Homo sapiens: one gene and its partners. The protein of the gene in region 3 purifies or fractionates together with the protein of the main gene of each other region. This does not show direct contact. Each region holds a gene or a part of one and is shown on either strand. Other genes may lie near its edges.

Region 1 (3,500 bases), on a different chromosome or scaffold from region 3:
AGATGAACAGGGATCTCCTCCTCGGGAGTAATGGTCCTCTGGAGCTTTCCCCAGAGGGACACAGTCACTTCCCCTCACGCCCCTCAAGCTGAAACCTACGGAGACTCAGCAGGCGGTGCTCCTGTTTCAGGCCCTTGAGCTCCTGGGACACGAAATTCTTCATCTGCTTAATGTCCATGCCTCTCCGGCGCTGTGGGAAAATTCCCAAAGGTGAACCCCCCAACCTCAGACACGAGAAACCACCACCCTCCCTCAGTTGCCATCCATCCATGAGAAAGGACAGGGAACCTGTCATAGTATTAGAAGGGGAGCCCAAGGGCAGCAGCCTTGGGAAGCCACTGAGGCAACAAAACAGAGGAGCAGGGCTTGGAGCCTCACATCATACTGGGCCTGCAAGTTCCGGGCCTTCTGGCTCAAGAAGCCAAAGACATTGGAGAAGTGCTCGTTCCGAATCTCATTAAACACCTGTGAGGACAGTAAGACAAGAACAGCTTACTCTGTCAGAACCATAACTTAGCAGTAGAATGACAGTACAGGAAGGGTACTCAGGTGTTCTGGCAGAAATACAAAGAAAGCTGAGCTGGGATCTGTAAGTCCATATCAAATGCCTACACCGTGTTCTAGGAGATGCTCTGAACTGGTGGGGAAACCCTCTCTCCCATAGACTCAGCCTCCCCTCTCAGAGCTGGGGCCCACAGCCTGGTATAAGCAGGGGGCCCACAGCCTGGTATAAGCAGTGGCCCTAGGTGGGCCCATTGCTAGCACCCACACCCTCACCTTGTCCTCGGCATTGAGTAGCACCTTCAGGCTCTTGTCAGAGGATGTGACTTCTGGGCCAAAGTCGACACTCCCTTTGAGAGCAGAGGGACAGCTATTAGGATCTCCAATGAGGACTTCTCCTACCATTCCCTGAACTGCCATAAAGGTCCTCAAACTATTTGGAAGCCAGCAGTTCATTCAGGGTCTGGGTCTCTCCCACAAACCCTGCCCCACGTGGGAGGTGCCAAGGCTGATGACCCGTCCATCTTGCCAAGATGCAGAGGACCATAGCACTTACCACACTTGATGCGGAAGGTGTCATCTACTAGGCCCTCATAAACCACTTGGGAGCAAAGTGCTGTCACAAAGTCCACATCTGAAACAGAGATCCCTGACCATGAAGGTTCTCCCTGACCCAGCCTTCTACACAGCATGTCCAAGGGCAGCTTTGATACTTTCCATAGGGCCAAGGACCCACGCTCCTCAAAGCTGGGATTCACAGCCCTAACTTTAGGATTTTAACTTTGCCACCACGCCTTCCATATTCCCGTGTCTTCTAGGGCTGAAAGATGACAGGAACGCTGGGCATAATTTACCTCTGTCCAAGAGAAAGATATGTCCAATCTCTGGCCTTCGGCCCTTGGTTTCGCCATCCTCCTCCTCCTCCAGGTTCCTCCACAATTCATATGCCATCTGCCAGGGCCCAAGACATTCTCAGTCTTGTGTCCAGGTCCCTACTGCAGCCCCATACCTACAGAAGTCAGCCCTTTCCACGTGATACTTCCTCTTGTCCCCGAGACAGGAGCTAATTATTCACAATATGGCCCTATCTACTCCCGTCTGTGTCTATCTTTCCCCAACACTCTTCCTACTGATGAGAAGATGTGTTACTCTGTCCCCAAAATAAAAAGAGATTTAGGAATGCTACCCAGGAGATCCTGGCTTTTGCTTCTCTGTTAGCCACACAAGTTCTCCTCTCTGAGGATCTATTCCAGAACAATGAAAGCAAAGTAAAGAATACACCTCATATCACAGGTGCCCTTGGATAACCCCAGGAGGGTACAGAACAGGGAAAACAGCGTCTGCTGGGACAACAGTACTGCTAGTGCTCTTACCTTGGCGCACCTGCCAATTCCATAGCAGTTTGGAAAGGGTCCATAGAGAGTGCTGAGAAGGTGTAAGGCCTGAGCTACAGTGTTGATCCAACGCTGATCTCCTTCCTGCAGGGACCACACAAGCCACAAAGATATGAATCAACCCAGTAGGACCACCTGGAAAGTGGCTAGCCCTAGAAGCCCTGGAGCAGGGTGGCAGGGCCTGGGGGATGCTTGAAAGGTTTTCATTGGCTCCACAGGAAGTCCCACAGAGACCAATCTGTAGCACTCAATCACCACATCACTATCACTTGTGATAAATTACTTGCGTTGGACAAAGGTTATATTGGTATTTCTAGCCCTCTGCATCCCACATTTGTCCCCATCCCCTGATGCCAAGACACAAGGGCCTCTGCATTTACCAGAAAGTAATCCCTGAAAAATTCTGGTAGTTCCATGCTCAGCAGATCCACATCAAGAGGCAGCAAAGAGAAGGCCCATTCATCACAGCTCACATCTGTGGGGACAGAGAGCATCAGCCTCCCTGCAGAAGGTACTTAGCTCCACGTTAAGAGGGAAGGTCCGCCACAAATATTTGAGTGCGTGCAACAAATATATGAGTGCCTGCCACATGCCAGTACTGCATTAAGCAATGGAGGCTCAAAGAAGAATAAGACACAGTCCCTGCCCTTAAGGAGCTCACAGTCTGATAAGGAAAGGAGATGTGTCCACAGCAGCCTGTAATACAATGTGATAAGTGGTGGGTTTTTACTAGAGGGCTGACCAAAAGTGCCGAGAAAACATTCATTCATTCATTATTTATTTATTTATTTAGAGATGGAGTTTAGCAATTTTCATCCAGGCTGGAGTGCAATGGTGCAGTCTCGGCTCACTGCAACCTCCGCCTCCTGGGTTCAAGCAATTCTCCTGCCTCAGCCTCCCAAGTAGCTGGGATTACAGGTGCACGCCACCATGCCCAGCTAATTTTTGTATTTTTGGCAGAGACGGGGTTTTGCCATGTTGGCCAGGCTTGTCTCAAACTTCTGACCTCTGGTGATCTGCCTGCCTTGGCCTCTCAAAGTGCTGGGATTACAGGTGTGAGCCACCACGCCCAGCTCACTCATTCATTATTCAGCATATATTTACTGAAAGCTGCCTACATGTAGGACTGTATGAACACCAGAGATACAGCAGTGAGCAAAATGGACATGCTCCCAACCTTCTGGAGCTTACAGTCTAGTGAGGGAGACACACCAGACAAATTATGACACAAACTATTAAATCACGGTTGTGCTCCAAAGAGGTCAAACAGCAAGCTGTGAGCACATATATTAAAGGGATGTAACCACAACTGGGGGTATAGGAAAGACTTCCCTCAAGAAGAGAAAATCAAGCTTAGAATTTGGGTAAGACTCGGGAAGGCAAAAAGCTATAGGGTGGAGAACGTTCTGGGTACCTGGAAAAGCATGGGTAAAGTCTCTCTGGCTGGAGGGTGGCGAGTCAGGAGAAGGAAGCAGCACACGATGAGGCTAATGGGACAGGAGGGGCCAGACTGTGCAAGGGATAGGAGGCATGTTGGGGATTCTGGGCTTTATATTGAGCCGCTGCTATTTCCAGCAGGGAGGGCTGTGATCAGGTTTGGGTTGT
Region 2 (3,500 bases), about 54 Mb from region 3:
ACTTTTTTTTTTTTTTTAGCCAAAAGTCTGGCCAGTTGTGGCATCAGGTGAAGATGTCATCCCAGCTCTATTATCATTTACATTCACCAAGGGAAATTCTGAAAATTCAGCACTTGTCCCTGGTCCCCGAAGGTTCACCTGTCCATTGGCAGTGCTAAATTGAGTAGCTATTCCAGCTCTTGATCCATGATAGGGAGCACGGAAGGGCTGTTCAAAGGAGCTCATTTGGTAAGCTTGGTGGACAGGCTGGGCCTCAGCTTTCTTCTGAGAAGTCACTTGATCCAGAAAGTCCTGTGTTGATGTGGCAGAAGCATGGTTTGTCTCATCACCTGAAAAGGGAAATGAGTGCTGTGAATCACCAACTATTAGTCCAAAGTGGGACTTATCTGGAGTTGTTCTTAGTGGAGAATTCATTCCTGATCGAAAGCTATTGATGGGCATGGTGGCATAGACCTGCTTGTCTATGGAAGAGAATGCTGGCTGATTTGGGAGGGTCTGGTTATCAGTCACAAAGTTAAGGCTCGGGCTATTCAAATAGGCATCATTTTGGCTAGTTCTGTCCAAAGCCTGCTGCAGAAACTTGGAGTATTCCTGCAACATGTTGGCTTTATCTGATGAGGATGCTTGGGAGCTTGATCCAACATTCTCTGACGGGGTGACCTCTGGTACTTCTGAAGAATTTATTGATATGCTAGAAGTCACTTCAGTATCTGCAACACTGAAGGATATCTCATGCTGTCCATTAGCTTTGTGGGAATAATGATCCAACAGAGTCTGCAGTACCTCATCTGGAATAACATTTTTGTCATGATTACTCTTAATCTCCACATTCAGTGCCTGTGACTCTAATATGGATGCCGTGGTACTTTCATCAATGACACTTGCCACAGCTGCTTGTGTTACAGAAGGCTGAGAAGCTATGGTACCCACATTCAGCGCATATTCCCTGCTGTTGTTACTTGCTGCTTGAAGATACCGCTTCTTCTTCAAAAACTGCATGGCATCATCATAATTAGTACTACTATGCACAGGTTTACTGGGCCCCTCCTGCAAATTATCAACCTGATCAATGTCAGCATTGCCTTCTGAGTCCAGTAAAGCCTGTTTATCCACAAGTTCAAAAGCATACTTTGAAACTTTGCTCTCTTCATATGTGGATAAAGGTGAAATTGTTTGATTTTGCTCCAGTGGCTGTTTCAGACTTCTCTTACTATTAATTTTTTTGAGAACTAACTTAGGTGGGTGTATTTCTCCTGACGCATCTTCTAAATGCGAGCCCCCAACTGACGAATGTGGCATTTCAACAGCATATTCTGCAACCATATACTCATCTTTTACTTTAGTACTTGAAGAATAAAGAGGCAAGTAATCATTTTTGTCTTTTTTCAGGTCAGATTTGTCCAAAGCACTCTCTTTGTCCATTCCAGATGATTTTTTCTCCGTTTTCTGCCTTTTCTTTTTTGGCAGTGAGTTGTCTTTTGGTGATGTAGAAAAGCCAGAATCTTCCTCAGATGTCAGAAGGCCACCTTTGATGGCACATCTATTTAGTTTTTTGTCATGATTTTCATGGCACATACGTTTATGTTTCAATACACGATCTGTTCTGGAAAAATACTGTTGAATTCAGAGGATGGTAGTGGGTTGTTTGTGGTTTTGGTCAACCAAGAAAAGAAAAAGTGAAACAAAACAATTAATATAAAGATATATTAATGCAATAACATACATAATTCCAAACAAATTCACTGAGCCAATTTTCTATTATAAATCTAATCTGTAAGAGTTAGAAGGCCCCTTAAATAGCTCTAAGTTGTAATATTTTCTAATCTAATTTATAATTATTGTATAATTTAATTACAGTAGAAGAATTTCAAGCCATCTCTCTTACCTGTAAACAGTATTCACACTGGTAAGGTTTTTCTCCACTATGAGTTCTCTTATGCCTTTCCATATGATATTTTTGTATGAATCTCATACCACATTCATCACAGCGAAATGGTTTTTCACCTAGCACATAATATAGAAAGTTTAAAACAAAACAAATATTGTAAAATAATGAATTGCTTTGCCATAAGAATCTCTAAAATAAATGGCTTTTGAAAGTTGTAACTTCCAATTTCATTTGTCAAATATATTTTGCTTTATAAAAATGAAAAGGATTAGCATATGCTATTGGAAAGAAAAGGATGAATACAGGCACAGTCCATTTTCCTGTCTTTTTGTTATGTGCGTATGTAATACCCTCTTTCCAAGGAGAACAGCAGTGCCAGGAATTTATAGCAATATGAACAGACTAGCTGATGTTTCTAATCTTTTTTTCAATCATATAAAATATTGTATAACAGTAAAAAACAAAAAGTTACCCATGCACAATACAACACAATTCCTGGAGACAGTTTTTTAACTCAATTCCTTTTTTAAAACATTTGTGGTTAAATAAAATCTGAATCCTGAAAATATCCTTTAAAATCTAATTTAATAAAATACAAAAAGAACTTAGAGTCTTAAGTTTGTTTATATTTATTCTTTTCCTCAACTCAAGCCAGCACTTCCCATATCATTTAGGGAATGAATTAAACTGAGTATTGTTAATTGGACACATAACACATAACCCCCATTTTTGAAAATCCCCTAATGACTCCTAGAATCTTCTGATTCATAGTCAGGTGTGTTATCCATTGTGCCACTGGCCCCCGCAATGATTTCTAAGCTGTAAAGAACCACTACTATGAAGCTCTAAAATAGTTTTTACTGATAAAACCACAGTCTAAGTAAACAGAAGGGTATGACAAGAAGTTACCTTGAATAATGCTTGTTGGGGAAACTACTGTTTCTCCCTTTCATACATTTAACAAAATTTTTACCAAATACTACTACTATATCCAAACCCCTTGTTGTAGGAGGTTAAAAGTATAAGACATACTACTTGTCTTCAAAGTTTATAACATAATTGGGAAAACAAGATACACACATTTTAAAAAGACAACTAACAACACTATGTCTATTCTGATTTACTTTTACATCTTTATATTTCACTCTTTCTCTTGGTAACCCTTTCAGACAAACCGAAATACCTACCATCTCATGCTTTCCTACTTTTGCCCTGATTCACGCTGCTCCTTCGATTGGGAATGTCCACCTTTGGGTGTTCAAATACTATATTCCCTTTGAGACCCAACCCATCTCCTTTGGGATACTCTGTCCTTTTCTCCCAGGTGAAAGGTATCTTTAAGTTTCCACAGAATTCTATCTGTACCTCTTCTATGGCACTCAGTACTTTCAACTCAATAATCATTGAGTTAAACTTTTTTTAAATTTCAAATTACTGAGTTGTTTACTGCTGCACTATTCACAATAGCAAAGACTTGGAACCAACCCAAATGTCCAACAACGATAGACTGGATTAAGAAAATGTGGCACATATACACCATGGAATACTATGCAGCCATAAAAAAGGATGAGTTCATGTCCTTTGTAGGGACATGGATGAAGCTGGAAACCAT
Region 3 (3,500 bases):
GGCAATCTGAAGAAAATGTCTGCCTCATGCTTCGACTTCCTAAATTTTTTAAAGCATTCATGGCTAAAGATCCTTTCATATTTTATCTTCCAAGGCAGGCTGAGGCAAAGAGGGTAAGATTTTGAACATAGGTTCCCTTCAGTGCCCATGTGTCTTAATGGAAATGAAAGGATAATTTGGGCCATAATGGATATTCACAGCTCTGTAAAGTTGATGAATTAATTCTATGGTTATATTCGTTTTCTTTTAAAATGCTAATTTATCAGGAACTTAACAGAGGAAATGTATTTTTCTGTCTTTTGCTTTGGTTTTTCTCCGGTATAAAATTAAGGAATTAGCAAGGAAGGCATTTATTTCAGGCGAAGGAAGTTTTCCTTGTGTCCTATAACACATCCTTATCATATTTAGATTAATGGCATGTAAAAATAGCCTCAAATGTTTGTTATCACATGTCTCTAAATGTTTTGGATTTCAGGGATTACAAGAATTCCAGGTAGTAAAAAATGCAAAAATACAAATGACAGAGTGTACCTGTCCCCTTCTATAAGCAAGAATATTAGACACCAAGAAATCAAAAATGGGAAAGCCCAAAAATATGTGAGGGATCAATCTAATATAAGGGAGTAAATACCAGTGGAATCTTTGAGCCAGCTGCTGACCTGGGAATGAGGTAAGCCATATATGACCCCAAGCACTACTGGGGGCATCCAATAAAGAGCTATGCAATTTGACTTGTTTTTACAGCAAATAGTATTATAATGAATATAATGAAGTTCGAAATCTACTTTTCTTCCTTAGTATATCTATGAGGGACAATCTCCTTTTTTTTTTTTTTTTTTGAGACAGGGTCTTGCTCTGTTGCCCAGGCTGGAGTGCAGTGGCATGAACAGGGCTCACTGCAGCCTCAACCTCCTTGCCTCAAGCAATCGTCCCACCTCTGCCTCTGGAGTAGCTGTTGACCACAGGTGCATGCCACCATGCCTGGCTAATTCATTGAATTTTTTTTGTAGAGACAGGGTCTCGCTACGTTGCCCAGGCTGGTCTCTAACTCCTGAGCTCAAGTGATCCTCTTGCCTTAGCCTCCCAAAGTGCTGGGATTATAGGCATGAGCCACTGTGCCTGGCCGACAATCTCTTGACTTAAAACCAAAAAAAGAAAAACAAAAACCCCTGCCCCTTAATAATACATTGTGTTCTCCATTAATAACTCCTACAAACAGTGCTAGTGCTTGGATTGCACAGCTTTCTCTACTAATTGGGTTAATGAGCTATTTATCCAACCATTGAAGGCTGTGTCAAGTTTGGTCATTTCTCCAGGTTCCATCTCTGGAGATAGATCGCTGGAGATACATCTCTGCAAATATCGGCTGTGGCTGAAGACCTAACGGCATGAGGTTTGTGCAAGTAATATGGCAACCTCCACTTCTGGGCGACGGTGTTGTCTCCTTTTCTCTACATATTCCAACCAGAGAGAGATCACTTTACTGGCTGGCCCCTCCACACTGCTGATGCTGGTATAATGGGAGTCTTCCATCAGAGCATTTCAACCACAATGGCACTATTTTCCCAATCAAATACACCTAGAGATTGGACACTTTAAGAGTATCAAAACAATATAAATGTAGCTTCCTTATAGCACAACTGCATTTTATCAACAACAAACTGTTCTATGAACGTCAAGATCCAAGAATAAACAGGCCTGAGAAAGCTTACCTTCCACGTGGCCGCGTTGCGTCGGAAGTAAGCAAACATTCGTGTGAACCAGTTATAGATCTCATTTAGTGTTAGCTGCTTTTCTGGAGATTCGAGAATGGCCTGTGAAGCAGAATGTAACAGAAGATAATTTATGACCAAATCAGCAGAGTCGTCATTCCACAGTTTCTCGAAAATATAAAATCACTGTGATTCAGAGCTAAATCCTGAGAAAGGTTTTACAAAATGATCTAAGATTAATGGTTGTATTTAACAGTTCAATAGCAAAATTCAAAATGGAATTATCTAATTGTTTTGAGTTTTTATTTCTGTTTCCGTACAGAAATATTAATTTATTAGTCATTCATAAAGCAGAATCAAAGAGAAATGCAAAACATTTCACTAGCTGATTAAAGCTCAGTAATTATTTAGAGCTCAGATTAATTCTAGGGATCAGAGATTACTGTAGCTTGTGATAATTGACTTGCCATCTTTAAACAGGCTCATTTTCACTGTTGTGTGAAATGAATTTCCTAATAATCACATCGTATTGTAATACTTAATCAAAAGCAATTATGTTATATATTGCAGTTTTAAAAAACCTTATAGAAAAGGTTTCAGCATGCTTGCATACTAAACGGTTTTTAAATCTACTTCATCAATATATATCCATGTACACATATACCTTCTGACAGAATTTCATATACTGTGTTATTTACTTACCTGCCTAATTAAAGATGCATATGTAAATGGTGGTCTAACTTCTGCGTTCTTATAAAATTCTTGGTTCTGCGCAATATCTGCTGAATAAGAATCATTGTCCTATTAATTATCACTTTTTCAAAAGGGGCTGGTCTACAAGAATTGCAGATTACAACTCTACGTGAGGCAAAAGGTGGAGTATCTACCTGACGAAATGGGCACGTTGTATTTGTCTGAGTACCGCCTGCGGATGGGTCCCACCGTGTGCATGCTGGTGGTTGTGATGACAGAGGGGCCTTGGGTGACGGGAGTCAGGGGGGCGGTTGGGGTCGTTGGAGTATGAGGTAAGCTCTGTGGAGAAGCCTCCGATGCGGACTTGGAGAGAGTGACACTTGATACCAGATTCAACTGCAAGGAAAAAAACAACGTCTTAGAAGACCTTCAGAAAACCAGAGCAACCCAGGAACCACATCTAGCAGGAGTAACACAGAGGATGCGTGGGCACCGTTTCTTCCTCTATGTAGATGGTATGTTTACCATGAACCGAAACACACGGTGAGTCCTGCGTGAATTCACTTAGGATGCAGTGTAAGATATCTCTGGCAGCGGTCTCTTTTCCAAAGGCTGCTACATGGGTGTTTACAGGCTCAAAAAGGGGTTACCTACCTGAGGGAGTGTGAGAAACCCTGAGTCAAGACATTTATTTCATTGTGATGTCTCACCTATAGGCTTTGATCGCCCATCAGGCCTTGTCAACCTCAAAGAGGGAGAGAAGTCCTTAGCAATACCAGTGAAGCTGAGTATTTTAGGTGACACCAGTTGGGATACGCTGGTGTAGATCTGAAGAAGTGTCCAGCAGAATTTCTGCAATATGCTAGCACAACCAAAGAGCTGTTTTTACTTGATTTTTATTAAAATTAAACTTTAATAAATGTAAATGGAAAGAGCCCCATGTGGCTAGTAGCTACCATACTAGACAGCCCAGGAAGAGCCTACTGAGCTCCCTCATGCAGCTTCGTGGATGACGAGAACTCCTGCAAATATGTGTGGCCTATTTATTACTCATATTAAACACAATGGGCCTGACCCCACCAGCTGTCATTTGTT
Region 4 (3,500 bases), on a different chromosome or scaffold from region 3:
GCTCTGTAACAAAGGAAATGTTTATTTTATTTTATTTTTTTTTTTTTTGAGATAGAGTCTCGCACTGTCGCCCAGGCTGGAGTGCAGTGGCACAATCTCGGCTCACTGCAAGCTCCACCTCCCGGGTTCACGCCATTCTCCTGCCTCAGTCTCCCAAGTAGCTGAGACTACAGGCGTCCGCCACCACACCCGGCTAATTTTTTGTATTTTTAGTAGAAACGGGGTTTCACCGTGTTAGCCAGGCTGGTCTTGATCTCCTGACCTCATGATCCGCCCGCCTCGGCCTCCCAAAAGGCTAGGATTACAGGTGTGAGCCACCGTGCCCAGCTGGAAATGTTTAAATTTGATAATTTAGTGTTATTTTAAAATAAAAGTGGCTGGGCGCAGTGGCTCAAGCCTGTAATCCTAGCACTTTGGGAGGCCGAGGTAGGAGGATCATGAGGTCAGGAGTTTGAGACTAGCCTGGCCAACATGGTGAAACTCCATCTCTACTAAAGACACAAAAAATTAGCCTGCCTGGTGGCGTGCGCCTATAATCCCAGCTACTGCGGAGGCTGAGGCAGAACTGCTTGAACCCGGGAGGCGGAAGTTGCAGTGAGCTGAGATTGTGTCATTGCATTCCAGCCTGAGCGACAGGGCAAGACTCTGTCTCAAAAATAAATAAATAAATAAATAAACAAAATGAAAGCATGTAATTGTATTGTTTGTAACACAAAGGATAAATGCTTGAGAGGATAGATACCCCATTTTCCCTGATGTGATCATTTCACATTGCATGCCTGTATCAAAACATCTCATGCACCACATAAATATATACACCGTTGGGCGCGGTAGCTCACGCCTGTAATCCCAGCACTTTGGGAGGCAGAGGCAAGCCGATCACAAGGTCAGGAGTTCAAGACCAGCCTGGCCAAAATGGTGAAACCCTGTCTCCACTAAAAATACAAAAAAATTAGCCAGGCACAGTAGCAAGCACCTATAATCCCAGCTACTTGGGAGGCTGAGGCAGGAGAACTGCTTGAACCTGGGAGGCGGAGGCAGCAGTGAGCCAAGATCGTGCCACTGCACTCCAGCCAGGGTGACAGAGCAAGACTCTGTCTCGGGGAGAAAAAAAAAAAAAAAAAAAAAAAAAATATATATATATATACACACACACACACACACACACACACACACACACACACACAGACGCCTACTATGTACACACAAAATTAAAAATAAAAAAATTTAAAAATAATAATTTAGTGTTTTTCTATCATTTTGCTAATCTGAAATGGGAAAATATAAAACTGCTTTGGGGCTCAAAGGTAAAATGACTATAAGCAAACAAAATAATGACTGGGGGAAAATACTGCCTTTACCAGCTAAACATTTATAGATTAAAACAACCCATGACTTTTCCCTTTAGATTTATCCCCAAGACCACTAAGACAAATACAAATAATACCCCACAAGCAGTATCTTATTGGGGGGATAAAAACAAAGACTGCTCTATAAAGTGTTCTCATGGGCAACCTTTCTCTTGCTCTAAGACTCCATCACTAAGGACAGGAGTGGGCTGGTCTACTCAGCCTACCCTTGCTCCCGGACAAGGCGTTATTTAGACCTGACTGATGACCTACTTATCTCAGGCACTTTCTCAGGTTCTATAGAGTACAAAGATGTTAAGGAAAACTGACATATAAAACAATCTTGAAGTGTATTATGGAAATTTTTAAAATATATATAAGAAAAATACAATAAATACCCATGTACTGATTATCCAACTTAATAACCAGTAATATCCCCAATCATGTTTCATTTTTATCATTGTTCACTCCTTCCCCAATTATCTTTTTATTTTTATTTTTTGAGACGGAGTCTCGCTCTGACGCCAAGCTAGAGTGCATTGGCGCGATCTCAGCTCACTGCAACCTCCAATTCCCTGGTTCAAGGGATTCTCCTGCCTCAGACTCCCGGGTAGCTGGGATTACAGGCATGAGCCACCACGCCCAGCTAATTTTTGTAGTTTTAATAGAGACAAGGTTTCACCATGTTGGCCAGGATAGTCTCAATCTTTTTTTTTTTTTTTTTGAGACGGAGTCTCACAGGCTGGAGTGCAGTGGCCTGATCTCAGCTCACTGCAAGCTCCACCACCTGGGTTCAGGCCATTCTTCTGTCTCAGCCTCCCAAGTAGCTGGGACTACAGGCGCCTGTTGCCACGCCAGGCTAATTTTTTTATTTTTAGTAGAGACGGGGTGTCACCGTGTTAGCCAGGATGGTCTCGATCTCCCGACCTCGTGATCTGCCCGCTTCGGCCTCCCAAAGTGCTGGGATTACAGGCGTGAGCCACCGTGCCCGGCCGGTCTCAATCTCTTGACCTCGTAATCCGCCTGCCTTGGCCTCCCAAAGTGCTGGGATTACAGATGTGAGCCACTGCACCCGGCCGAACTCTTTTTCTCTTTTTTTTTTTTTCCTGAGACGGGGTTTCACTCTGTCGCCTTGGCTGGAATGCAGTGGTGCAATCACAGCTCAGGGCAACCTCAGCCTCTTGGGCTCAAGCAATCTTCCACCACAGCCTCGTGAGTAGCTAGGACTACAGTGTCATGACACCATGCCTAGCTAATTTTTTTTTTGTTTTTGGGGTTTTTTTTTGGGATGGGCTCTCGCTCTGTCGCCCAGGCTGTAGTGCAATGGCGGCTCACTGCAACCTCTGCCTCCCAGGTTCAAGAGATTCTCCTGCCTCAGCCTCCCGAGATGCCAGGACTACAGGAGTGTGCCACCACACCCGGCTAATTTTTGTATTTTTAGTAGAGACAGGATTTCGCCATGATGGCCAGGCTAGTCTCAAACTCCTGACCTCAAGTGATCCACTCACCTTTGCCTCCCAAATTGCTGAGATTACAGGAGTAAACCACCGAGCCCAGCCAAACAGCATTTTTCTTTTTCCTTTTTTTTTTTTTTTGAGACGGAGTCTCACTCTGTCGCCCAGGCTGGAATGCAGTGGCGCGATCTCGGCTCACTGCAAGCTCCGCCTCCCGGGTTCACACCATTCTCCTGTCTCAGCCTCCGGAGTAGCTGGGACTATAGGCGCCCGCCACCACGCCCGGCTAATTATTTTGTATTTTTAGTAGAGATGGGGGTTTCACCATGTTAGCCAGGATGGTCTCATCTCCTGACCTCGTGATCCGCCCACCTGGGCCTCCCATTTCTTTTGAGAAAGAGTCTCCCTCTATTGCCCTGGCTGGAGTACAGTGGCGCGATCTCGGCTCACTGCAACTTCCGCCTCCCTGGTTCAAGCGATTGTCCTGCCTCAGCCTCCTGAATAACTGGGATTACAGCCATGAGCCACCACACCCAGCTAATTTTTGTATTTTTAGTAGAGACGGGGTTTTACCACGTTGGTCAGGCTGGTCTTGAACTCCTAACCTCGTGATCTGCCACCTCAGCCTCCCAAAGTGCTGGGATTATGGGCGTGAGCCACCGCACCCAGCCACTTTTTGTAGAGACAGGGTTTTGCC

The links. The genes of interacting proteins can lie anywhere in the genome.
Region 1: the proteins of FOXP1 (region 3) and VPS33B purify together in Homo sapiens (affinity purification with mass spectrometry, with the first as the bait; one large-scale study listed by BioGRID). This does not show direct contact.
Region 2: the proteins of FOXP1 (region 3) and ZNF148 purify together in Homo sapiens (affinity purification with mass spectrometry, with the first as the bait; one study listed by BioGRID). This does not show direct contact.
Region 4: the proteins of FOXP1 (region 3) and NUP155 purify together in Homo sapiens (affinity purification with mass spectrometry, with the first as the bait; one large-scale study listed by BioGRID). This does not show direct contact.

The regions. Positions count from the first base shown.
Region 1 is NC_000015.10:91,005,595-91,009,094, forward strand, and holds part of VPS33B (vacuolar protein sorting-associated protein 33B), read right to left. Parts: intron 3,383-3,500; coding exon of another isoform or gene 3,310-3,382; intron 2,371-3,309; coding exon 2,276-2,370; intron 1,980-2,275; coding exon 1,875-1,979; intron 1,453-1,874; coding exon 1,356-1,452; intron 1,136-1,355; coding exon 1,058-1,135; intron 852-1,057; coding exon 778-851; intron 466-777; coding exon 379-465; intron 191-378; coding exon 100-190; intron 1-99. UniProt on the Homo sapiens protein: May play a role in vesicle-mediated protein trafficking to lysosomal compartments and in membrane docking/fusion reactions of late endosomes/lysosomes.
Region 2 is NC_000003.12:125,232,326-125,235,825, forward strand, and holds part of ZNF148 (zinc finger protein 148), read right to left. Parts: intron 2,005-3,500; coding exon 1,886-2,004; intron 1,615-1,885; coding exon 16-1,614; 3' UTR 1-15. UniProt on the Homo sapiens protein: Involved in transcriptional regulation. Represses the transcription of a number of genes including gastrin, stromelysin and enolase. Binds to the G-rich box in the enhancer region of these genes.
Region 3 is NC_000003.12:70,975,229-70,978,728, forward strand, and holds part of FOXP1 (forkhead box protein P1), read right to left. Parts: intron 2,802-3,500; coding exon 2,600-2,801; intron 2,495-2,599; coding exon 2,415-2,494; intron 1,815-2,414; coding exon 1,713-1,814; intron 1-1,712. UniProt on the Homo sapiens protein: Transcriptional repressor. Can act with CTBP1 to synergistically repress transcription but CTPBP1 is not essential. Plays an important role in the specification and differentiation of lung epithelium.
Region 4 is NC_000005.10:37,364,607-37,368,106, forward strand, and holds part of NUP155 (nuclear pore complex protein Nup155), read right to left. Parts: intron 1-3,500.